Regions from separate parts of the Homo sapiens genome. Here all the other regions are linked to region 1. Evidence: fine-mapped expression QTL. A gene starts in region 1. Each other region holds a variant in brackets. All regions are shown on one strand. Distances are between the middles of the regions. Region 1 holds the start of SDK1 (sidekick cell adhesion molecule 1). Region 2 overlaps SDK1-AS1 (SDK1 antisense RNA 1). Region 3 overlaps SDK1 (sidekick cell adhesion molecule 1). Region 4 has its middle 82 kb from the start of SDK1. Region 5 overlaps SDK1 (sidekick cell adhesion molecule 1).

Evidence for each region. PIP is the estimated chance that this variant, and not a neighbour inherited with it, causes the effect. A credible set is the group of variants that fine-mapping cannot tell apart.
Region 2: its variant is the best candidate, but not a certain one, in a credible set for the expression of SDK1 in lung (GTEx, PIP 0.68).
Region 3: its variant is the best candidate, but not a certain one, in a credible set for the expression of SDK1 in transverse colon (GTEx, PIP 0.51).
Region 4: its variant is the best candidate, but not a certain one, in a credible set for the expression of SDK1 in thyroid (GTEx, PIP 0.83).
Region 5: its variant is the best candidate, but not a certain one, in a credible set for the expression of SDK1 in blood mononuclear cells (TOPMed, PIP 0.86).

What each region holds. Positions count from the first base shown.
Region 1 is chr7:3,299,025-3,304,127 of GRCh38, forward strand. It overlaps SDK1 (sidekick cell adhesion molecule 1), which reads left to right and starts at 2,228. Exons shown (of 45, transcript NM_152744.4): 1 at 2,228-2,860. The coding sequence starts at 2,563. It overlaps SDK1-AS1 (SDK1 antisense RNA 1), which reads right to left. Exons shown (of 3, transcript XR_001744897.3): 1 at 3,205-5,103. RefSeq lists enhancers at 795-1,307, 1,308-1,819, 2,529-3,029 and a silencer at 1,705-2,254.
Region 2 is chr7:3,244,381-3,249,483 of GRCh38, forward strand. SDK1-AS1 (SDK1 antisense RNA 1) reads right to left here. Exons shown (of 3, transcript XR_001744897.3): 3 at 1-586. Among named protein-coding and RNA genes, the nearest start is that of SDK1, 54 kb to the right of the region's middle. RefSeq lists an enhancer at 1-712. The variant C/T (reference allele first, on the strand shown) is at 2,086.
Region 3 is chr7:3,473,618-3,478,720 of GRCh38, forward strand. All of the region lies in intron 1 of SDK1 (sidekick cell adhesion molecule 1), which reads left to right. Among named protein-coding and RNA genes, the nearest start is that of SDK1-AS1, 120 kb to the left of the region's middle. The variant C/T (reference allele first, on the strand shown) is at 3,176.
Region 4 is chr7:3,216,897-3,221,999 of GRCh38, forward strand. No RefSeq gene overlaps it. Among named protein-coding and RNA genes, the nearest start is that of SDK1, 82 kb to the right of the region's middle. The variant T/A (reference allele first, on the strand shown) is at 1,960.
Region 5 is chr7:4,202,907-4,208,009 of GRCh38, forward strand. SDK1 (sidekick cell adhesion molecule 1) reads left to right here. Exons shown (of 45, transcript NM_152744.4): 36 at 2,973-3,088. Among named protein-coding and RNA genes, the nearest start is that of FOXK1, 480 kb to the right of the region's middle. RefSeq lists enhancers at 1-501, 2,581-3,082, 3,083-3,582. The variant C/G (reference allele first, on the strand shown) is at 2,128.

The DNA.
Region 1 (5,103 bases):
ATTATTCCTAACTTTTTACAGGAACTTGGAGTCAGCGATTTGCCCAAATTTCACAACTACAAAGGGCGGAGCTGAGTGAGACCTCAAAGCCCCATGACTCCACTCTTGGATCACCAGCCTCTATCTCCCAGCAAAGCAGAGGTGGTTGGGGTGAAGAGGAAGGGAGGTGAGCTCCCGACCTTGGGCAAAACACTTCACTTCCTTTATTTATTTATTTATTTATTTATTTATTTATTTATTTATTTATTTATTGAGACAGAGTCTCACTCAGTCGCCCAGGCTGGAGTGCAGTAGCAAGGTATCGGCTCACTGCAACCTCCACCTCCCAGGTTCAAGCAATTCTCCTGCCTCAGCCTCCCGAGTAGCTTGGACTACAAGCGCACGCCACTACGCCTGGCTAATCATCTTCTTCTTCTGTCTTTCTTCTTCATTTTCTTCTTTCTTTTTTCTTTTCTTTTTTTTTTTTTTAACTGCAGACGAGGTTTCACCATGTTGGCCAGGCTGGTCTTGAACTGACCTCAAGTGATCCGCCCGCCTCGGCCTCCCAAAGTGCTGGGATTACAGGTGTGAGCTACCGCGCCCGGCCCACTTCTTTATGCCTCAGTTTCTCCATCTGTACCAGGGCCAGCACCTCTCACACAGCAGGTAGTGAAGCTGCTGCTGCTGCTGCCCTGGGCTGGCCTACAGTGAGTGCTCACTGCACAGGAGGTATTGCTTCCCCCCGCCCAGCAGGTTCTCATTATAATCTTGCAAGTTTGAAGAAACCCAGCCTTGCTACCAACAGAAGATAAAAACAGACATGCCTCTCTGCCTCCAGTCTCATCCCCATGTCCTTGGGGAGCTGTCCTCTTCCGGCTCGTCCCATCTATGCGCCCTCACTATATCCTCAGAACAGGGCACTCCGTGGCTCCTTTAACTTTTTTGCCCCTCCTAGCATGGTGTGGAAAGGGGGCAGATGGGAGGCCTCTTTCTGAAACCACCTCCTGTTCGGCGGCTGTACTTGGACCTCAGTTTCCCTGTTTTGTTCACGTGGTCATTGTTAAGTCTTAGGGGACGTGTACAGAGGCTAATATTGAGCCACCAATCAGTTATTTGACAAATACCATAGGCGCTCTGTGAGCAGGAGCTGGCTCCTATCCCAGACCCCAGCCCTGTGACCTGCTCTCCACTCGCCCGGGGTCTTTCTTGGCTGGGACAATAAACCTACTGCATCAGGTGATTCCTGGGGAGTCAGCCCCGTGCTGGGCTCACACCCAGCCCCTCTGCGTTCATCTCTTACATGATCTCATGCGACCATCATCACACGTCCCCAGGCTCCTCCCGGGCCAACTCCAGAGGCAGTGCGTGTCACCTCCAGCTCTCCTCCCACAAAAATGCTGGCCTTTCAGCCTCCAGTGCGCTTAGTTCACCCCATAAACTCTGCTAATGCTTACCACATGCTGAGCGTCGGCGCCCGTCCCCACCCCCAGCCCCACAGGCTCCCGGGTCCCGCCCTGGGAGACCCTCCCACTGGCCGACCCTGCCCCAAGACTCGCCCACTCCACGGTGGGAAACCTGCAATGTGTCCCTCCCTACCCCGCCCTCCTCCAGCGCCGGCCAAAAGTGACCTTGGACGCTTCTACAATGCCATATCCACTCCTCTGAACAGGAGGCGAGTTTGCACCCAGTGGTGCCTTTGGTTGCTAGAAATTAAAAACCCGATTGCGCGTGTTTGCAATTACGGTAACTTGGCGCGTCACCCCCAAGCACTGAGCTAGCTGGTGGTAGCCGGGCGCCTCTCGGGGCGCGCCCTATTCCGCCCTCGGCCCTGGGCTGCCGCACGATCTGCGCGTCCTGCTGCACCTGAGCCCTTCCCACTCGGGCGCCCGCACCGCTGCGGGGCCGGGCGAGGATGCACCACCCCCGCCCGCGAGCCCGCCACGGGAGCGCGTGCCGAATCGACGCCGCCTGCAGTCCCCACTACGGGTCCCTAGGGGGCGCAGCCGGCGCGGGAAGCCGCCCGAGCCAGGCGCCGCGGCCGGCACAAAATTGCAGGCGGGCGGGCGCCGCGACTTTGAAAACAAGCGAGGGCCTGGGGGGCGGGCCCTGGGAGCGGGCGCCGCCTCCCTCGGCCAATCAACGGCGGGCGGCGGGCGGCGGGCGCGGGCGGCGCGTGCGGCCGGGCTGTGAATGGGGAGCGGCGGCCGCGGCAGCTGAGGGCGAGCGCGACCGCGACGTGCGGGCGGGCGCACTTTCTTCTCAGCGCCGGGCGGGGGCGGCGGCGGCGGCGGCTCCTCCGCGCCCGGCGGACCCCTCGGAGCTAGCGCGGCGGGCTCGGGACTGCGTGAGCGCCGGACGCGAATTTCCCCCGTTGACAACTTCTTCTCGCCCGGCTCGTCCCCGGCCCGCGCCGCGCCCCTCACGCGGGGACCCAGGACGCCGCCCCTCAGCGCTGGGCGGCCGCTCACCTCGGGCCGGGGGGCGCCGCGCCTCCCGCGGAGTGGCCGCGCCCGCTCGGAGCCGTCCCGCCTGTCCTGCCCGCCCGTCCGTCCGGCGCGGCGCTCGGGGTGGCGGCTGCTCGGCATGGCCCGGGGCGCCCGGCCCTCGGCGGCCGGTGGCGGCGGCGGCGGCGCGGAGCCCCCTGAGCGCGCGGGCCCCGGGCGGCCGCGGGGATCCCCGCCCGGCCGCGCCCGCCCCTCGCTGGCGCCGCGCCCCGGCCCGGAGCCCTCGCGACCCCGGGCGGCGCCCGAGACCTCCGGCGGGGACACGGCGGGCGCGGGGCGGTGCGGCGGGCGGCGGGCGGCAAAGTTGGGGCCGGGCCGCCGCGGCTGGTGGGCGCTGCTGGCGCTGCAGCTGCACTTGCTCCGGGCGCTGGCGCAAGGTAGGTGCGCGCGGGGTCGCGGGCCGGGGGCGTCGCCTCGGGGCGCGGAGGCGCGAACTTGAGCAGCGAGAGTGTGTCCGGGGTCCCCCCGCTTCCCGGCCCGGGTCGGGATGCGCCTTGCTGGGGGCTCTAGGGAGCCCAGGGGCTCCTCCACGCCAGACTCGGAGGAGAGGGAAACGGAGCCCCGTAGAGCCTGCACCCCGTCTGCTACTTTGCGTTTTATTTTTTTTATACCGCAGTAGCACAAACAAAAATTTTTAAGTTGAGGACCCATTTCTCAGCTCCTTAAAAGGATGCCCGAGTCCCCTTCCCATTGCATGGATGAAAAAGGGGCTGGTCTGTACCTGAGTCTTCGCACCGCAGGGTCTGGTTTCCGGTGAGTGACATCCAGAAGACTTGGAAATATCAAGTGCCAGTCGCTGTGAAAAGCCTTTTCCAGCCCCTCCCCAGGGCCTCGTCCTCTCCCCAGCCCCCGCCTGCTCCTGACTCCCCCAAGTCCCAAAGCCCGACCCCAAGTGGGTGCTGCGCGGCCGGTGGAGCAAAACTTTCAGTGCCCACAGCTTTTGCACTTGGCTTTGTTTTTCTCCCTCTATTGGCTTCTGTTTAGAATACAGTGGTGAGCTCTGAAATAGGGAAAGAGGATCTGCTGAATGGAAATGACCTTTTGAAACGAGAGATGGGATCTCTTGTGAAACGAGCTTTCCTTCCCAAATCTGGGCTTCCCTCCACCCCCTCCCCGCCCCCGACAAAACCCGTAACGTACCCCTGCCAGCTAGCATCGTTTTCTTTTGAAGTTTGCTGGTCTTTAAACCAAAACACCCCCCTCAACCCAGAAATAACTATTTTAATACGTCCTTTGGTAACGTCTTTAAAACACATTAGTGAACTGGTTTTGCTGATGGTAGTTTTAGGAAAATTAACTTAGTTGTATTCCAAGATACAGCTAACGAACAATCATGGTAAGGAACTCGATATTCTGAGATTGGCGAAGATGAGAGCATTAAACTTAAATTAGCTGTGTTCTGTGTCCTGTGAAGATGATTTATGTGTAGTAACATGACTTAAATGTTGTAACATTTTAAAGGTCTGAGCTCAAAACTATCATCCAATAGCTTAACAACGAACTCATACTTTTTTTTATTGATGCTTATGTAACGTTATCTAAATTGTGCCCCTCCACCCCCCTCCAGCTTTCATAAATGCTCCCTCTTATGTTTTACTACATGAAAACAAATTGCCATATTTCTGGTTAATTTAACTCCTCCATTACTTGGAAAATTTTCATTTCACTTATTTGTGCTTTTTGCTTAATGACTTACTCTGGAAGAAAAGCATTTATTAAGTCATTTTGTACAGTGGGATCTGTAGATTGTTAGAGCAACCAGGTTCAAGTGAAGAAATCTAAATCACTTAGGATGACCTTTAAAATAATGTGTTTATTAAGTTTTCTTTTTTTAAACAGTGACTTGCATTTTGCACTAAGACCTGTACGTTCATACATTTGAAGATTGGTGCACAGACTGAAATGGTGGGGAAAAAATCTGCCAGTGGCTTTGTTTTGAAGTATATTACATAGATTTCAAGTTTTTATCAGTTGCACTTTGAAGGTTGTGTAAAGCATTGCATTTTAACAACTGAAATGTTAATGAAAATACATTTTAAAAATATATTAAGGCAACAACCGAACTTTGTTAGGAATATTTTATTCCTTTTTGGCAGTAAAAACATTGGTACCTGTTTTACATTTATATGGCTTATGAAAGTGTACAGATCTTTTAGTGTAAAATTTCAGATAGGTTGTCACAAATTTTAAGTTCATTGACGGGTTTCTGTTCTCTTTGCTCTGTGAAATGTGTAATATATCCATCTTTTTTTATATCGTATTGAAAATTCATATTACAGAGGAGATGTCACCATTTGACAAAAGCTCATGTATCTTGAAAATGAAAATTCTGGTGCTGTTATAAGAGATTTCTGATGGGATGATGAGTTGGTCATATGTGCAGGAGTGCATTCTCTTGAATCTTATCAGATGTAACATTCTAAATGGAATAGTTACCACTACGTTGGAGCGCCTCCTAAGTACCATATTATTACATTGTAGCTAGGTGAAGCTATGACTAATTTCTCTGCACCTCATGTAAGTAGGCTAGGTCGTGTATTTTGAGAAAAAACGTGCGACATTGATCAGTAAAAGTTACATTTTTATAACCTAGGTTACAGACCCTCTATGTAACTGATCA
Region 2 (5,103 bases), 55 kb before region 1:
AGATATCCAAATGCGCAGTGACTTTTGCTGCAGAGGTGGGTGGTGACCATCTGGACTGGGCATTGATTAGAAGATAACTGGACATCCGTGTGACTGCATCCTTGGTGGGGGTCAGGGCACAGAGATATATGTTTGATTCCACAATGTCAGTGTGACTCAGAGACCCTTTTGTTGTCGTTGTTTATATTACAGTTAGTGAGTCACCCACTACACCTCCCTCCTGGGATGAAGTCCTGAGCTGTAGAATGACTCCAAACAGGCACGACTGCTTTATTAGCAGGCTTTGACTCCCATACAGGGCTCTGAACATCAAACAAAGTTGGCCAGGATTTGATCCTCAAAAGAGAAGATGGGATCCCATCAAGATGTCCACATGCCTAACGCCTGTTGGTCCAAAAGAGTCTCATTTTGTAGGGGGAAGAAACTTAATTACCAGCGCAGGAAGAGACTCTCAGAACATGTGGTTTTCAGTTTTGCCAAGATTCCAGGCCAACTTATTACTCTATTATCATTGTTGTTAATCTTTGCTTGAAAGATGCATGAAGTCAGTAAGTCCCTTTCTTAAGGACACCAAAGCTGGGAGTCTCTGAAAAACAGGACCAAACAGTGGACCACTGGTCAGAGGCACGATGTGAGTAAAGAGTAGCAGAAATATTTTTGTCATGTATCCACATTAAAGGGTGACTATAAAGTATGTTCCACAATGGCTTTTTTTTTTTACCCCCTCAGCAAAGAAATAGCACTCTATTTTGTTTGGAAAACCTACTTTGATGCCTCAAAAAAATAATGTGCTTTTCTGATTCTGATTTTTCCTCTTTTCTTTCAGCAACTGTGTTCTGCCTGTCTCTAAACCAGTACTTGGAAGGAATGTCTCTCTCTCTCTGTTTATATTTCTATGTTTCAGAGTCAACGTCATGGCTAAAGGAGACGTGATTTGCAAAAAGGCTTGTTCTCCAATAGCCAAGGAAAATATGTTTTTTAAAAATCTTGGTAATGCATTAGTTTTGGCATCTTTAAAACTCCTTTTTCCTTTTCTTTTTTTAGGGGGTAGGAGGACAGGGTCTTGCTCTGTTGCCCAGACTGGAGTGCAGTGGTGCAATCATAGCTCACTGAAGCCTTGCTCAAGCCTTCACTCCTGAGCTCAAGTGATTCTCTTTCCTCAGCCTCTCCAATATGTGAGACTACAGGCATGTGCCACCACAACCACCTAATTTAAAAAAAAAAAATTTGTAGAGATGGAGTTCTCCCTATATTGCCCAGGCTGGTCTTGAGCTGGCTCAAGCAATTCTCCCGCTTTAGTCTCCCAAAGCGCTAGGATTACAGGTGTGAGCCACTGTGCCGAGACTTGTTTTTCTCCTCTTTTTGTGATCCCTCCCAAAATTTGCTGTCAATAAACTGTGTGGTCCTGTGAGTGACCCAGGGCAGAGACAAGCATTGTAGCCCTGTCACCAACTGGCCAAAGATGGCTGCTACATGATTTCCCTTATCCAATCTAAAGGGGGCTATTGGAGGGGGACAGAGGGCCATCTGTGTCCACAAAACGAGCCCAGAGTTGGGACTGCTGGGACTATACACATGTGACCGTATGTCCAGTTGAGAGTTGTCATACATAACCAGACAGTGGAGGAGCATGGTGGTCAACCCAGAAATGATGAGTTGGGTTCTAGGGCTGACAGACTGAAGGCTTTATGAATGACCTTTTCACTTCGTTGACACATAGGTGACCCCTGTGTCCTCTAAATGGTGCAGGCCAGGCATCTTTTCCGAGACCTAATGGTTCCTTCTCTTTTATAAATGGCCAGATCGAAGGGCATTAGTGCTCTCAGGCACAATAGGCCTCAAAGGCCCCTGCCTCCTTCCTAAATGGGCCTTACTGCAAAACCCTAATGCACTTCCTCACACTGGGACCTCAGCTGGCTCTGTGCACAGGCCTCCCTGCAGCACAGGCCCTCCCTGCAACCACAGCAGTCACTAATGAATATTTTATCAGTCGCCATGCCTCTCTGTGCAGGCTGTATCTGGAAGTCATCTTTGCTGATTTGACAGCCTTTCTGCCTTAAAGGAGCCACCAGCAATGATGTGTTG[C/T]CATCTGTTTAGAAATGAGGACTCAGCCAGCCTCCCAGTTAAGCTGGAAAGCTGATCCTCCTTAGAACAGATATTTGAAAAGAGGGCTTTGCTCTCATGAAAGCCCACAGTCTGCCCCTGCAGTTCCCTTGTTACTAATTCCAGTGGGGGAAAAAAAATTAAGAAAATGTAGACCTAGAAGATCAGAAGATTGCCTCTTCAAAAGGCACTAGTTTCTAAGAGTAGTATTCCTATTATTTTATTTTAGATCTTGGGTGAATTCATTTATTTCTACAACAAATGTTTATCTAGTTCCTACTTCATCAGAAAAAACACTGGAACTCAGCCCGGAACAGGAAGAAGCTGACTTTGCCCTCGGAGAACAGACAGCCTAGTGAGGAATTCACTGACTTGCACATTCATTTATTCAACACCTATTTACAGAGTGACTATGATGTGCCTGGCATTGCTCCGGGGACAGGGATACACAGTGAACAAAACAAACAAAAATCATTCTGCTGGAAGACAAAATATAATCACACAATGTATATAATTATTAAATGCGATAAGCACAATGACAAACATTTCCTTACAAATGCCTTTCCTGAGATTCTATATCCAGCTAAACTATCATTCAGCAGTAAAGACAAAACCGAGACATTTTCAGATATACAACAAATAAGAGAGTTTCTTATGAGCAGGTGCTCACTGTCAGAGGAAAGTGAAAAAAGTGAACAAAGACGAAAGAAACAAGAGGCAGCACAAAAATCCAGGAAATACATTAACAAATGCAATGAATGACTGCAATTTTTGTATTTTAACAGAGAAAAAAATGAACATTCCTGAAAATAGTAAAATAGAAAACCAAGATAAAGGAGAAAGGATTTTTAAAATCTGACTTTTTAGTCAAACAAAGAAAGCAAACAAGCCTCTAGCAAGATTGACTTTTAAAGAGGGGTACAAAGGCATAAATAATAGCAGGAATAGGGCCAGGCACCGTGGCTCACGCCTGTAATCCCAGCACTTTGGGAGGCCAAGGCAGGTGGATCACGAAATCAGGAGTTTGAGGCCAGCCTGACAAACATGGTGAAACCCCGTCTCTACTACAAATACAAAAATTAGCCGGGCGTGGTGGTGCGTGCCTGTAATCCCAGCTACTCAGGAGGCTGAGCAGGAGAATCGCTTGAACCCGGGAGGCAGAGGTTGCCGTGAGCCGAGAATGCACTACTGCACTCCAGCCTGGGTGACAGAGTGAGACTCTATCTCAAAATAATAATAATAGCAATAATAAATAAAAACAGATGCAGTTGAGTTTTTTTTTTTTTAATTAGGAGAATGCAATGAATACCTTTATGCTAACAAATTTGAAAACTTAGATGAAATGAATAATTTTATAGAAAAAGACTACTAAAATGGACCCACAGCCTGGGCAACATAGTGAGACCCCCATCTCTACAAAAAATCAAAAAAGTTGCTGGGTGTGGTGGTGTACCGCTGTGTTTGGGAGGTGTACTCAAGAGGCTGAAGTGGGAAGACCGATGGGGCCGAGGAGTTCAAGGCTGCAGTGAGCTATGATCACCCCACTGCACTCCAGCCTGGACAACAGACCAAGACCCTGTTTCAAAAAATAAAATCTCCCAGCAGTTTGGGAGGCCAAGGCGGGTGAATCACCTTAGGTCAGGAGTTTGAGACCAGCCTGGCCAACATGGTGAAACCCTGTCTCTACTAAAAACACAAAGAAAATTAGTCAGGCATGGTGACACACGCCTGTAATCCCAGCTACTCGGGAGGCTGAGGCAGGAGAATCACTTGAACCCAGGAGGCAGAGAGGTTGCAGTGAGCTGAGATCAGTCAGAGGTTGCAGTGAGCTGAGATCATGCCATTGCACTCCAGCCTAGGCGACAGAGCAAAATAAAATAAAATAAAAAATAGAGCCAAGAAGATCTTTTAAATATGAAATAAATCAACAACTATTAAAGAAATTGAACTGGCAATCAAAAGTTCTCCCACAACCACTCCCACACCTCCCCCACCCCTCGCCCCCACCATACACACAGACAAAAGACAGATTGTTTTCCAGGCAAGTTACAACAAAGCTTTGAAGAATAGAAAGCCCTCATTTTATGAAAACAGTTTCAGAGACTAGAAAAAGGGGGGAAGGTATTGAAAGAACTTGATAAAGTTAGTATAATCAGGAAGCCCAAACCAGAGCCTCATGGTGCCACCAGGAGAGAAGGTCCTAGCACCTTTGTTCTATCAGCTGGGGCTCTGCCTGTCACGCTGGAAACAAAGGTTTCAATTACACAGAGTAACTGTCAGGAAAAGGCAGGTTAGCTGTTGGCTGTCTTTCACATCAAACTATGTGTTAAAGTGGCAACTTTCTTTACTCCGCACAGATCTCACACTAGACCTAGATGAGGCTGGGCCAGAAGCAGGAATTTCAAAGAGGAGCTTTACCAAATGCATCCTGGTTTATGTAAATGCAGGTGCCAATAATATCACTGGAACGGTGGCTCATGCCTGCAATCTCAGCACTTTAGGAGGCCAGGGTTGGGGAATGGCTTAAGCTCAGGAGTTCGAGACCAGTCTGGGCAACATGGCGAAACGTCATCTCCACAAAAAATACAAAAATTAGCAGGACATCATGGCCCATGCCGCTCATCCCAGCTACTCAAGATCCTGAGGTGGGAGTTTTGCTTGAGCCCAAGAGTTTGAGGCTGCAGTGTGTCAAGATTGCACCACTGCACCCTAGCCTGGGTGAGAGAGCAAGAACTTGTCTCAAAATAATAATAATCATGTCACTTCACTAAAAATGAGAAATCTGGAGCCAGATACAGTGGCTCACGCCTGTAATCCCAGCACTTTGGGAGGCCAAGGTGGGAGGATCACTTGAGGTCAGGTGTTCAAGATCAGCCTGGCCAACATGATGAAACCCCATCTCTACTAAAAATACAAAAATTAGTCAGGCGTGGTGGAGGGCACCTGTAATCCCAGCTACTCAGGAGGCTGAGGCATGAGAATAGCTTGAACCTGGGAGGT
Region 3 (5,103 bases), 170 kb after region 1:
GTGCTTTATTCATGACTACCTTTTATTTCCTGGGTCCAGGTACTAATACATCTTGAATTATTTTTTTTTTTCCATTTTATCTTTCTAGTTACCTTCCTTCTACTTCTTGCTGCTGCCTCCTACACAGAGCCCTGGCTCCCACAGTAGGTTAATATGTGTAATAATGTTCAGGGAGTGTGATGAACATGAGCTGAAAATTTTAGACCACCGTATGGTCTGCCTATATTTTTCTAATTTTTTTTTCCTCTCCAAATTCGCGTATGTTCCTAGCTACCACAGCAGTGAAGGGTAGTGGAAGGAATGTGGACTTTGGAGCCCAAATAGTTTGGGCTGAAAGACCAATCCTTTCAGGCTCAAATGCCTCGATATTTTTGGACATCCACCTTTAACCTGTAAAATGAGGGTAGCTGCCTGCCATGTGGTATCATGCGCCTGTCCCTTTACCTGTCAACTTGACATCTCTACCAGATGGTGTTTTTTTTTTTTTTTTTTTTTTTTTTTTTTTGAGACCGTGTCTCTCTGTTGCCCAGGCTGGGGCGCGGTGGCTCAATCTCGGCTCACTGCAACCTCTGCCTCCTGGGTTCAAACAGTTCTCCTGCCTCAGCCTCCCAAGTAGTGGTGGCGTGCGCCACCACGACCAGCTAATTTTTGTATTTTTAGTAGAGACGGGGTTTCACCATGTTGGCCAGGATGGTCTCGGTCTCTTGACCTCGTTGTCCGCCTGCCTCAGCCTCCCAAAGTGCTGGGATTACAGGTGTGAGCTACTGTGCCCGGCCATCTCTACCAGATGTTTTAAAGACACCTCACATCCCTCCTGTCCAGTACCAACCCCAGTATCTCACCACTCAGTCTCTCCCTCCAGTCCCTTGGCCTACCCTTGACATGTTCATTGTTCTTTAATTCCTTTAACAGTCTTCTATCACATTGGACGTTTACCTCTCCCTCACACTTTGTGTCTTACCTGTTACCGTCTTGCCACCTCTACTTCCTACATTTCTCTGTAACCCATCCATGTCTTTCCACCTCTAATGTCATCATATTCAAATTATTGCCATCTCGCACCTGGGTCATTACTTCTATTTTTATTTTTTGAGACAGGGTCTTACTCTGTCACCCAGGCTGCAGTGCAGTGGCATGATCATAGCTCACTGCAGGCTGGAACTCCTGGGTTCAAGCGATCTTCCTACCACAACCTCTTCAATGGTGGGGACTATATAGGTGTGCACCATCATACCTGGCTAATGTTTTAATTTTTGTAGAGACAGGGTCTCCTTATGTTGTCCAAGCTGGTATTGAACTCCTGGGCTCAAGTGAGCCTCCTTCCTGGCCTACCAAAATTCTGGAATTGCAGGTGTGAGCCACCGTGTCCAGCCCTGACCCATTGTATCATCCTAACTGATACCCCTGCATTCACTTGGTACTCTCCCGTCCATTTTCCACATGGCAACCAGGATGATAATTTTAAAACACATTTAATCATGATATCCTCTTGCTTAAAGCTCTTTGATTCCTTCCCCTTGTTCCATTCTCTCCCTTATGTAGAAGCTGATGACTAGTTAGTTCCAGGGTCTGGAACCTGAACTCTCCCTCCTGCTCTTTAGTGTCACTTGCTTCTTGTTGTCTTCAAGGCCTGGCCCTTCCTTGGATACTTGTTCTCCCCTCTGTCTGGAAGTGCTGCTTCTTGCTCTCTGGAGCCCTCCCCAGCCCTGCCCCTTAACTGCCCCACCTATTCGCACTGGTTCATAGCAGCTCATTCTCCAGTCTTCCTCCTTTGAGCCCCCTCGGGTGTGGGGCTCCTCCAGAGCAGCGTTTCCACCCTTGGAGCACGTCTCTCTCACTTGGTGCTGCGATGACTTGATTTCGCAAAAATCAAGCAGGACAAAGGAGATGCTTCACATCCTAGTTTTCTTTTTCCTCTAACGTCTTTTCTAATTGTGAAGTTTATTTTGATTATTAATGTTTCATTGGAAAGAAATTATTTCTCATTGATTGTATAAAAATCAAATGACATGATTATGTTATGGCCAGGTTTTCCCCCTCCAGATGAAAGTCCAGGGGAGAATGGTATTAAAAGTAAATAAATTTACTTAACTCTCAAGTCAAGATTTATGAATCATTGACTCAAAAGAATGAAGTATATTATATTTGTACAAGACAGTCTTCCACAGATGCACGGTTTCATAGTGGAACTGCATTTAAAAATCACCTGAGCTGCCTCTCTGGCTCTCTGTGGCATCATGTGGTACTTCTTATTCATTGCGACATGGGATTCCTGCCCAAACCATTAATTAAACATTTTGACTTTCCCTTTAAAATTCTGTTAGCATTTAGTAGCTTTAATTTAGTTTTAAATGCTGTTTATACTTCCTGCTTATTATCTTTTGGTAATTAAAACTTTTCCTATTCATCATCAAAAAGTCTGTATTTTTAAAACCCATATTTTAAAACTCAATTTAAAACCTATTTTCAAACAATTTCTCTCTGTTTTAGATTAAGTGACTAATTTTCTTTATATTCCGTTTCACTCATGAAAGGTTTTGGAGAGCTTCCTAAAAGGTACGATATGCATATGAAAACTGTTCCTGTGCTCTTACTCTTCTGATCTGCTTTCACCTTTTATGGCTTTCTTTAATGCCAGTGACTTGAACATTACACAGGATTCCATCACCCACAGCTGTTTGCTGTTTATACATAGACAATATTTTTCAGTTGCCGTTACCGCTCCTGGTCGCATCTAACACTACCAGGGCTATGTCTTCAGCAAAAGGTGAGTGGTAGTTCCAGTACTTCTTTTCCTTTAACCAGACATTACTTTTTCCTAGATTATTATGCCATTGTTCTCATTGTAATCTATTTCTACATTTCTGCCGAATGATACAACTTAGTGAAATCTTCTAATACCTTATTACCAAAAAGTTTGGGGTCATATAGGACTTTATCATTATTTTGTTTCAGAATACATATGTGTTTTCTACCTATGCCATTGTTTTTTGATTCTGTTAATGGTGGATTTATTTTATATGTTGAAATTTAGTATTTTTATATAGTTAATTTTGTCAGTCACTTTGTAGTGAACTTTTCCAACCTCGAATTTTTTCCTCTGTAACCGTTCACTGAGGCTGGAGTTTGGTTTGGATGACCTCATCCCCAGGCCCAGCGATTGACCCTAGTCATA[C/T]ACCCAGCAAGGTGGCTGACTGGGAACTCAGGCCTAATCTAACTAGCGGGTGGTATTCGTGACTATTAAGAGATGGGTGTATAACTAGGGCTTTTGGCAGTAAGTGGGGAAAGAGGAACTCCTCTAACTGGTGAGGCATGCAGGCCTAAGGACGGAGACTCTGTAGGCGTGAGGGAAGCCATATGGCTGAAGAAGCTAGCATGTGCAAGAAGAGGGCAGATTTGAGAGAATGGCAGAGAAATGGAACAAGACTGATCAAATGAGTCTGATTGTGACCTTCCTCTGTACTTTGGAATTACATGAGCCATTAAAGTACTTCCTTGTTTAAGCTAGTTGAGATTTCCTATTTGTAGCTTGAAATATCCTAACACTTCATTTTTGCTTTATGGTTTTCTCCTTTTTTTTTTTTTTTTTTTTTTTTGAGCCAGAGTCTTGCTCTGTCGCTCAGGCTGGAGTGCAGCGGCGCGATCTTGGCTCAGTGCAGTCTCCATCTCCTGGCTTCAAGCCATTCTCCTGCCTCAGCCTCCTGAGTAGCTGGGATTACAGGCGTGCGCCACCACACCTGGTGAATTTTTGTATTTTTAGTAGAGATGGGGTTTCACCTTGTTGGCCAGGCTGGTCTTGAACTCCCGACCTCAGGTGATCCACTTTGGCCTCCCAAAGTGTTGGGATTACACGTGTGAGCCACCCTGCTCGGCCTATGGTTTTGTTTCTTTCTTTTTTCTTTTTTTTTTTTTAAGAGATGGGGGTCTCACTCTGTCCACCAGGCTGGAGTGCAGTGGTGCAGTCATAGCTCGCTGCAACCTCAAACTCTTGGGCTTAAGGGATTCTCCTGCCTCAGCCTCCTTAGTAGCTGGGACTTCAGCACACACTACCACACCCAGCTAATTTTTAATTTTTTTGTGGAGATAGAGTCCCACTATGTTGTTCAGGCTTGTCCCGAACCTCTAGCTTAAAGTGAACCTCCCACCTCAGACTCCCAAAGCACAGGGATTACAGGTGTGAGGTACCACACCTGGCCTGCTTTATGGTTTTTTATATATAAAACGTATCATGAGAAGTTGGATGGAAATTTTATCTGTATTTCCTCTTACTGATTTGTTCGTTTCACAGGTGTTTGAATCCTTACATACAGTGTTTTGTCCTATGGTGTGTGTTAGAGATCTGCCTTTACTTTTTTTCCTAAACAGTTTCCCATATGTATTGAATTATATCCTTCCTATTGATTTGCAACATACTCCTTAGGAAACTTTAGGCTGTTGGTGAATTTTCTGTTTTGTTCCACTAATCTGTCTTTAAATCACTGTATCAGTAAAAAATTATAAAGTATTATCCTTTTGTAATATATTTTAATGTTTTCAGGGAAAATATCCCTCATTATTTTCCTGAAGTTTCATGGCCATTACCTCCCCTTTATTCTTTGGGATTAATTTGGGAGTTATTTTATGTTTTATGAAATAACTTCTTGGAGTTTTGATTAGAAGTTTATAAATTTTATAAATGATGAGAGTGTTGACTTATTTTTTGAGATAGATTCACTCCATCCCTTTTAATGTATTTTAGGCATAATATATTATTAGTGCTCTTATAAATGAGAGCTTCATTTTCTTATTTTTCAATTTGGGGAAAATTTTTGAGAACATAACTATGGTAATTATTAGAAAAATAACCTAGGAGTATCATATTTACATATTCTCTTTAAATATATTCAACTTTAAAAATAACTTTATTTTTAAAGTTGCATATTCAGTTATCACAAATTTTATGTGTATCTATAAGTCTTTTTGCATTTGTGTGGGCCTTTTTCTTTGTTCTTGATCAATGTTGCTGGAGGTTTATTGATTTTATTAGACTTTCCAAAGAATCAAAGGTTTTATTGAATTATTGAATCTTTATTTATTTTTGCTCTTTTATTATTTCCTTGATTC
Region 4 (5,103 bases), 82 kb before region 1:
GATCCAGATTTAAATTCTAGCATGGAGGAAACAATTAAGCAGTGGGAGTGGCCAGGCACAGTGGCTCATACCTGTAATCCCAGCGCTTTGGGAGGCCAAGGCAGGAGGATCGCTTGAGCCCAGGAATTTGAGACCAGCCTGGGCAATATAGCGAGACCCCCATCTCTACAAAAAACTTAATAAGTTAGCCAGGTGTGGTGGTGTCCACCTGTAGTCCCTCTACTGAGGAGGCTGGGGCTAGAGGATTGCTTGAACCCAGAAGTTCCAGGCTGCAGTGAGCTATGATTGTGTTATTCCAGCCTGGGCAACAGAGTGAGACCGCATCTTAAAAAAATAAGTAGGAGATAGTAACAATGGTAACAGTGACTATTATTATAGGCTAATGGCTGCAGGCCCAGGAACCTGAGCTGACCCCCATCGTGACTAACAGCCTACTGCAACTGCAAGAGTCAGGCTGACTGTGATAAGGGATTGCTGAGGAGGAAGGGCTTGCAAGGTGATTATCAGAAGCAGTGGCCCCTCACCTTGGCTTTGCCCTCTTTATATGCAGGTGAAGCAGAGGGTAAGCTAAACCTTACCTGAAGCCTCAGAATTCTTCTCCATTTACAGACAGCGCTGCTACCCCAGCCTGAAATTTAAAAAAAACCCAGCACACATACTCAGGGAAACACATCAGGAATTTAAAAGATCTTCCAGGGATGATGTGAGACCCCTTGATTGATAAAAATAACAGTGACAGAGAGACCGTGTGGCGTAGTGGTTGGGCTGGGAATCCAGCTCTGCCACTGACTGGCTGTGCAACTTCGGGCAAGTTTCTTTTTTTTTTTTTTAATTTTCTTTTTTTTTTTTTAATTGAGATGGAGTCTTGCTCTGTTGCCCAGGCTGGAGTACAGTGGCGTGATCTTGGCTTAGTGCAACCTCGGCCTCCCAGATTCAAGCGATTCTTCTGCCTCAGCCTCCAGAGAAGCTGGGATTATAGGCGCCCACCACCACACCTGGCTAATTTTTGTATTTTTAGTAGAGACAGGGTTTCACCATGTTGGCCAGGCTGGTCTCAAACTCCTGACCCAGGTGATCCACCCGCCTCAGCCTCCCAAAGTGCTGGGATTATAGCCATGAGCCACTGCACCCGGCCAACTTTGGGCAAGTTTCTTAACCTTCCCAAGCCTCAGTTCCCCCATCCATAAAACGGGGATGATAGTAGTTCCTATGTCAGAGAGTTGGGGTGAGGAGGAAATGAGATGCTTGCAAATGCCTGGCCCCTAACAAAGCCCACAATAAAATTTAGCTATTTGCAAAAGTGAGTCCCTCTTGGCTCCCAGGGAGGCTGAGGTAACACTTGTCAAGGGTGGGTGGGCTGATTCAGGGGTACTACATTCGTGTTGTCTTGTCTGTATGGTAGAAACATCAAGTCCCACTCCTAACCTCTCAGAAGAAAGTGAGTAAATGAAGACCCTAAAGTTACACCAGAGAAAACCTGTCAATTCCCGCAACCTTCCTTTTGCCCTGCACCCTTTCCCATCCCCCAAAGTACACTTGACCCCTCTCTAAAGTGGCTGAATTCTACAGTACTCTGGGGAGAAAGTCAAGTTCTTAGCTATGACGTTGGTCTTTTTTCCCCGCTTTTGTTAAAAGAAAAAATGATGAGAAATGTTCCTTTCTTGCATTCCTGCACCATCTCCTCTTTCTCTTCCTCAATTTCTTAGGAACGAAATCACCCAAGATATAAATAAAATGTTCTAAATAAAGCTCTGCCTAACTGCAGCGTAAGACATGTCTGTGTACGTTTGTGACTGTCAGCCAAAATAAGTTAACCTCCGATGGAAGTCATTTTCATGTAATTAATTATTCTTGTCGCAGCTGAAAGAGACAGGTGCATTATTGGTGTACTTTGGCAGAACTTCTGGGTGAACTTAAGAAGTCTGCATTTCAAACACACCAAACAACTGGAGTGCAGCT[T/A]TGGCTTTTGTTCTGATATTGTTTCTTGACTTGGAACCTTTATTTCTCAATTACTGCAAACTGAAAAAAAAATGAAAACAAAAGAACAGACATCAAAGGCATTCTGAAGTACAGGAGGTACGTGATGTGCCAATTAAGCAACAGGAATGCCGTCTATTCTGCAACAGCTGATGTTTTCATTCTCCCACTCAGAAAAGGGGTTTAGGTTGTTTGGGGTTTTACAGAAAAGCCACTTGTGATCGGGTAAGTCTGTTATTAGCAAGAGTTTTCTTTGTGTCATGGAGGTCAAAGTCCTGGCATGTTAACATTTTTGAACAAGAAAGAAACATAGCAGGATGAAAGAGAGACTGGCCAGGTGAATTTGCAGCTTGTTGAATGAAACTGTTCAAATACGGACTATTACGGAGTTGAGGGTCTCTAGCGGAATGCCTTAGGGCTCTTTCCTTAGCCTTCTGAAACTATTTGAGGCTGACCAAAGGGGGAAATGCCAGGAAGCTGAAGGAACAGTAACTGCTGGGTGACAGAATTAGATCAACCCACTCCAAAGACTAGTATGATGGGCCTATTGAACCAGCTGTTTTCCAAAATAAATGTTTTAGAAAATAGCTGTTTTCCGTTACTTTCAATGGCAAAAACTGCAATTACTTTTGTACCAACCTAATAAATTCTTGCCAAAACAAACAAAAAAGCCCAAAACCGAAACCTACAGCATATGAAGAGTTAACTTGAAAGCTACCTTACAATCTTACCCTTTCTAAGACATTTGGTGTTAATTGCTCTTATAAGCAGTATGGAATTATATTTTAAATCCAATTTGATATTTAACAGGTGAGTTTGACCGAATCGCATTTATTGTAATTGCTGTTATATTGGGATTTAATTCTATCATCTTATTTTGTATTTTTCTATTGCTATGTTTGTCTCCCTCTCTTTTTTTTTCTATGAATTGATGAAATTTTTTTATTCTCATTTTTTTCTTCTACTGTTTTGGAAATGACAGCTTATCTTTCTGTTCTTTCATCAGTACCTGTACATTTTTTTAAAATGGGTAGTTTGTGGCCCTAAGAAGGATAAGACATCAGTTTGAAAAGAGACCCTATCAGAGTAGCATGAATTCTGCTAAAATTGAAGCAGGAACAAACATCAAGTTTATGATGAACTTTGGGTGAAAGAATGGTGAAATCATTGATACTTTATAAAAAGTTTATGGCAACAATGCCACAAGGAAATCAGAAGTTTACAAATGAATAAGTTGTTTTAAGAAGGGATAAGATGATGTTGAAGATAAAGCTTGTACCAGCAGACCACCTACATCAGTTTACCAGAAAAAAATTAATCTTGTTGATGCCCTCATTGAAAAGGACCAAAGAGTAACAGCAGAAACAATAGCCCACACCTTAGATATCTCACTTGGTTCCGCTTACACAATTCTGACTGAGGAATCAAAGTTGATCAAACTTTCCACTTCATGGATACCAAACTGTTGCACCCAGATAAGCTACGGACAAGGACAGAGTTTCAGTGGAAATTTTGAGCAAGTGGGATCAAGATCCTGAAGCATGTCTTCAAAGAAGATGAAACATGGCTTCACCGGTAAAATCCTGAAGACAAAGCACAGTCAAAGCAATGGCTACCAAGAGGGGGAAGTGGTCCTGTCCAAGCAAAAGGAAGAGTGAACCACTCATAAGCAAAGGTCATGGCACCAGCTTTTTGGGATGCTGAAGGCATTTTGCTTGTTGACTTTCTGCAGGGCTAGATTACAACAGCGTCTGCTTATTGTGAGGGTGTTTTGACAAAGTTAGCCAAACTTTAGCAAAAAAGCTCTCAGGAAAGCTTTATCAGAAAGTCCGTCTCCACCACGACATTGCTTCTGCTCATTCCTCTCATCAAACAAGAGCAATCTTGTGAGAGTTTTGATGGAAAATTACTAGGCATCCACCTTACAGTCCTGATTTGGCTCATTCTGACTTCTTTTTGTTTCCTAATCTAAAAATCTTGAAAGGGTACCCATTTTTTTTTTCAGTTAATAATATTAAATATACTGCATTGACATGGGTAAATTCCCAGGATCCTCAGTTCTTTAGGAATGGACTACATATCATCACCTACAAACACGTCTTTAACTGGATGGAGCTTGTGTTGAGAAATAACGTTTACATTTCTTATTTTTATCTTTTAATTTCTTTTTCCCATAAAGTTTTTGAAGTTCCTTCATATTTTTATTTTGTGCTCACACTGGAGCAATAACTTATCTGGGTATAGGATTCTAGATTGACAGTTGTTATTTCTCCACAGTTTTGTGTTTTCTGGCAACTAATGATGAGCTGTCTGCCTAATTGTCTTTGCTTTGTAAGTAATCAATATATTCTCCCTGGCAGCTCTGAACCTCTTCCTGTCTATCCCTAGTAATCTGTAGTTTCACTAACATTGTCTATGTGTGAGTTTATTTGTATTTATGTTGCTTGGCACAAGATGCAAAATTTCTAACTAAGGACTTCATATGTTTTCACAAAAATAAACTTGAGCAGATAAAAAGACAACCCTTGTTCTTGGACAAGATGACTCAATACCATATAGATGTCAATTCTCCTCAAGTTACTATGTACATTTAATATAATCCATAAAGGCCAGGCACAGTGGCTCACGCCTGTAATCCCAACACTTTGGGAGGCCGAGGTAGGCGGATCACTTGAGGTCAGGAGTTTGAGACCGGCCTAGCCAACATGGTGAAACCCCGTCTCTACTAAAAGTACAAAAATTAGCCAGGCATGGTCGTGGGTGCCTACAATTCCAGGTACTTAGGAGGCTGAGGCAGGAAAATTGCTTGAATCCAGGAGGCAGAGGTTGCAGTGAGCTGAGATCACACCATTGCCCTCCAGCCTGGGCAACAAGAGCGAGACTCTGTCTCAAAAAAAAAAAAAAAAAAATCCATAAAAATACCAAGTTTTTTTTACTGGAGTTAGACAAGTTGGTTTGAATGTTCAAATGGAAAAATAAACATGCAAAAATAGAAAACCATTTAAAAAGGGCAATAAAGATTGACTAGCCTTCCAGATAGTAAAATATATTACATAGCCTCTATACTAAGAGTGTAGTCCTAGTACATAAATAGAAAGACCAATGGAACAAAATAGAAAATCCAGA
Region 5 (5,103 bases), 900 kb after region 1:
TGGAGTTAGAACCATGAGCTGCTGGTGCTCTCCACCCACCAGCAAATTAAGACTAAGTCAGGGCAGCCACTGTGTCCCAGCGGCTGCTTTTGATCCAGCTGAAGCTCGCTGGCCACTTAGGGACGGCGAGCACAGGGAGGTTGGGCGAGGCGACAGAATGCCGTCCTTGCTGCCGTTTGGGGCTTGGCTGCAGCCTCCAGCCCACCCCTTCCCGCAGAGGCAGGAGGCCACGCCATAACCCGGCTCAGGCCCCAGCGCCCAGCCACGCAAGGCCATCCAAGCAACCAGCCAGAATTCCAGAACATTTCAGAAATGTCAGGAATTCCACGATGGCTGTCAGGTGAGGGTCCCTCCAGAAGTCCTGAAAGCTTGTCTCTCATTGCCTCAGCAAGATCCCTCTCCCAGGCCGCAGAGGCCCCCTGGCGAGGGTACAGGACCCATCACACCAAGGACCTGAGTCACTCAGCTCTGCGATGGCATCGTAGCCTTAGCGTGAGACCCCAGAGAAAACCCCAGCTTTGCACCTTTCCCTTTAAATGCCAGTTGCAGGCAATCTCCCTAGCAGCAGACGCCAGCAATTGCCGGTCTAAAATGCTTTTTAAAAATAATTTCATGTATTTTTTTTTTAAAAAAAAAAAGCTTCCAAGCTGGTATGTATGTCATCCTTACACCGCAAATGCTAAGGTGGGAAAACAAAAAACGAACGACAATCAGATGCTCCGTGTCTCCCAAACTGCACACGCTTTACGGAGAAGGAGAGTTGCACCGGGGCTTGTCAATGGCAGAGCCTTCCTGAAAGTCAGGTTCTCCTGTCAGGGTGGAGACCCAGCGGCTTTCAGGAGCAAAAAAGAAGTCTCCAAACCGACACGCTTTGCTCAGCGTTGACATATATTTCTCTCTTCCCTGCTGGTGTCAACAAAAAATGCTTTGTTGCCTGCAGTAATTTTACGGTCCAGAAGTGCCTTGCTGTAGCATTGCTGGTAGGCACGGCAGTGCGGCTCAGCTGCCTGAGACAGGGTCATGGGCCTTTGCCCAGCTCGTCTCCACCCCAGAGAAAGGGGCATGCGGGCCCCTAATTTATGGGGGTTCACCTGGCGCTCACAGACCCACCAGTTCCTACAGGCGGATATCCAAGTCCAGAGCTGTCGTGGGCGCGCTGAGTTGGGCCATCTTTGGAAAGAAACCCTGGGGCTGTCGCGGGGGGAGGGCGATGTCTCACCGACTACCAGGGTAATGGCCGCGCTCAATTTTGCCTTTCACATTTTAATTGTACAACAGTAATTTTGCAATGGAGTTGCCGATGGCAAACATGCAAAAGACATTAACTTTATTTATGTTTTGGATTATTAATGTGGCTGTTAAAATTCCTCCAGTTAGTTTTGATTGAATTGTTTTTTTGTGTGATTCTGCTGTTTAATGGGGCGGTAAATAAGAATTTCTGATAATGAGGCTGAGCATCTGTCACAACAACCTGGTGTGGGCTATTAACATTTCCATTAACGGCAGGGTGGGCAGTGATAATACGGAAACCACACAGTTAGAACAAAATAAATAGTTGGTGTCAGGCTGAGTGGGTGTTAATTACTATTTTATTCTGCGCTGGGGGGAGAGAGCAGAAAGTGGGGAGGGGGTGATGGGGAAGGGGCGAGTCCTGAGGTCAGTCTCTCCCAAGAAGGCCTCTCCAGAGAGCCGGGTGCTGGGCCATCTCCCTCGGACAGCGACTGTTTTATCGTCTCCATCGATGGTCCGTAAAGACACTCAGTCAAAAGGCTGCACTCCTGGGCCGCAGCCCCGGCGGCAGGCGGAGAGGAGTGCTCGGCTGGCCTCTGCCTCCGGGAGCCAGGCCCCCTGCACAGCTGCCCTGGAGCTCCCCAGGGCCCAGCTCATGGACAGCCGGGAGAGCCCCAGTGGGAGGAGGGAGTAGCAGAGAATAGGCCGTCAAGAGAAAGTGCGCAGCGTGGAATTCAAAGATAGTGTGAAGCTGGCATGGGGCAGACAGGACGGAGGCGTTCTGGAACGCAGGCGTGTGCTCCCAACTGCCTAAATGGCTGTGTGGTGAGGTGCGGAGGTGCGGCCACACCCCTAATGGCGGTGTGGTAAGGCGCGGAGGTGCGGCCGCAACATCCT[C/G]ATGTGTCCTTTGGTTTGCGTGTGCCATGCAGCCCTGCAGACGCAGACAGCACCCCAGTGAGCTCCTCCCCAGGGGGAGCGAGGGGGCTGGAGGGGAAGACTGGATCCTCAGAACGTGAAGCCAGAGCTGGCCTCAGAGAGCAAAGTGCAGCCATGTTCTCAAACATCGGAGCTTCCTGTCCCTCTTAGAGGGGCAACTCTGTGTATCTGGACGAACTTCATCTAGATCAGGGCTTCATAGCCAGGGATGCCTGAACCTGTCATGGGAACACAGCTATCTTTTCTCTAATCTCAATCAGTAATATTAGTGACAAAAACCACAGCAGTCAGGAGTCCTGTGACTCCCTCGCCGATAGAGCCGCAGTGACCCTGTCACATCCCAGGCATTGCTGGGACCTCAAGTTAACATCCTCACCCACCAATGCTTTGATCTCACAGCAACCATCAGACCAGCCCCTAAGCCTGGTCAGGTATTAACCAAGAAGCACGTGGATTACGATCTCATACCTTTGGTTTCAAATACTCTGCTAACTGTATCTCGGTATAATTATTTTTCTGTGCAATTCTATATATTTTATTGTATGCATTTAAGAACATCGTATGGGAAGGATTTGTGGTCTTCCCTGGCATAAAAGGGCTGAGAGCTCTTAGGGGGACACAGAGCCACGGATCCCAGGACATAACTGTCTAAGGCCTCCTAAGCCAGGGCGACGGCCCAGGGAAGAATCTCTCACATGGTTCCCAGCGGAATTAGGGCATGCTCGAGCCCCATGGGCATGTGGGCGAGGGTCCGGGCCGGCTCTGAATGAACGTCTCAGCTTCTCTCCGCATTGCTCTTTCCTCAGCCCCGGCCATGGCCCCGCAGAACGTGCAGGTGACCCCACTCACGGCCAGCCAGCTGGAGGTCACGTGGGACCCACCACCCCCGGAGAGCCAGAATGGGAACATCCAAGGCTACAAGGCAAGGCCCTCCCGTGCGGTTGCCTCCCCTGGCTCGCTTGGGCACCCCTCGTTCACGTGGTCCTGCCTACTGCATTGCCAGCAGCAGACCCCGCAGGCGCTCCACCTGGAGAGCTGGGGCCCAAGCGTCGGAGCTTGGCTAGACCTGGCCTGTTAACTGTGGTCACAGCTGCTTGTGGGTGGGAGGCAGCACAGGGGCCAGGCTCACTGCACACCTGGCTGTGCCCACCACAAAACAACCCAGGTTGGGGGCCCTTGTTTGTCCACTGGCTTCTCCCCACTCTGGACGCATGGCCTGGCTGGGGAACCCTTCCGTTTCCTGGGCCCATTCTGGAGCCCCCAGTACATTGGCTGACTATAAAAGAACATGGGGCGCCTGGAAGAGACCAGGCTCCCCATCCCAGCTCCCCCCTTGGTCACAGTTGGACACTGAGTGAGTCCCTTGATTCGGTCGGTCCAGGGTGGGGCCCGCCAGTCTCATTCCTCACAAGGTCCCAGATGTGAGGTCCCTGGGAACCCTGCTTTGAGAACCGCCACGGTAACATGTGAGAAGCCCATTGTCACTGGAGGGTCTAGAGATGGGGAGAAAGGAAGGCAGCAGGCCATGACAGGAGAGCGTCGAGTGAGGAATCATTATGTGGGGCTGGGTTATCCATGGGGCGGGAAGCACCTCTCCACGTCCCATCCCTGAGGCCTGGCCTCCTTAGAGAGTACAGGGCCCATAAGCATCCGGGGTCTTTGCCATGAAAACGCCCCCATCCTTCTCCTAAATAAATTCCCCTGTCTATTCTGCTGGGACCCAAGTCGATCAGTCATCAGATTCTGGGGGCTAGCCTCCCCTAATGACTATTGGACCGATTAAATGTCCATTTAAAGATGGTTTTTGCAGGTGTGTTATGAAAATTAATACCTTCCTCCATGGCAGGGCTGTTACAGTGATGAATGAGCTAATGGAGAGCCCCATGAGCTTGGAGGCATGGCGCTATTTATGTATGTCCAAAATATGTTTTCTAATTTCCTTAATGATAAAGACACTGATCTTGGATATTGATCTCAAGTTAGCAAGGCCTGGGCGAGCGGAAGATCTTAGACGGTCAATTCAGTGAGCAGAAGCCCACTACATCCTGCAGGTGGAAATGAACGATGCTCACCAGTCAGGGCCTGCCCAGCAAGAGCAAGGCGGGCGGGTGTGCGAGGCAGGCGTGCCAGCCCTGGGGCGCTCCAGGCTGCCTCCCCGAAGCCTCCGTGCTGCCTTTTCACATGGGCAAGCCGCTCTAACAGCCTGGCCCTGGTTTAGACCCACAGAGCCAAGGTGGGTCTTCTGATTGGTGTTGTCTTTGGGCAGCCTGGCTGGCACTGGTCGGAGGTAGCAGTGGTTTCCGGCCAGCTGTCTAGGGAAGCAATTCTGGCAACCTCTTTAAACCTTTGTGCTTGGGCGTCAAGTTCAACTACAAGCACATAAAAGCTAGACAAGAGGAAATGGCACCCCAGAGGAATGAGGCCTTCCCAGCAGCCCTGAGCCCAACATAGTTCTCCTGCCTGTTGTTTTTGATTGCTTTAATCTCCAAAGTATATTGCCATATTGAGGAAAACTTAGATGTCGGCTCTGAATAAAATGTGGGAACACATCGTAGGAGTTGGGGGTTTGTTGTCTCCATAGCTCGGAGCAGGGGGTGGACACGGGGCGGCTTCCCTTCTCTCCAGAAGATGGGGGAGAGGGAGAGGCCAAAAATCAAAACACCAACAGAGCTAGGTCTGCAAGGAAAGGCACATCATCGGCAGCTGAAGGGCAGCTTCCCTTCCGTCCTCACAACTTATCTTCAACAGCGCTTTGTTTAACGAGGCAATGCTCATACTCTAGGTGAGCAACAGGAAAATGTTAAACATCGTCTCCCAAACAACATTAGCAGCCAGGGGTCCCCGTCCATACACAGTAGCCTCAGCTTCTCCCTGATTCCTCCAGGAGGGAGCCTTTCCACCTTCCCACCCAGCACAGCTCGCCCCAGAACTCAGCTC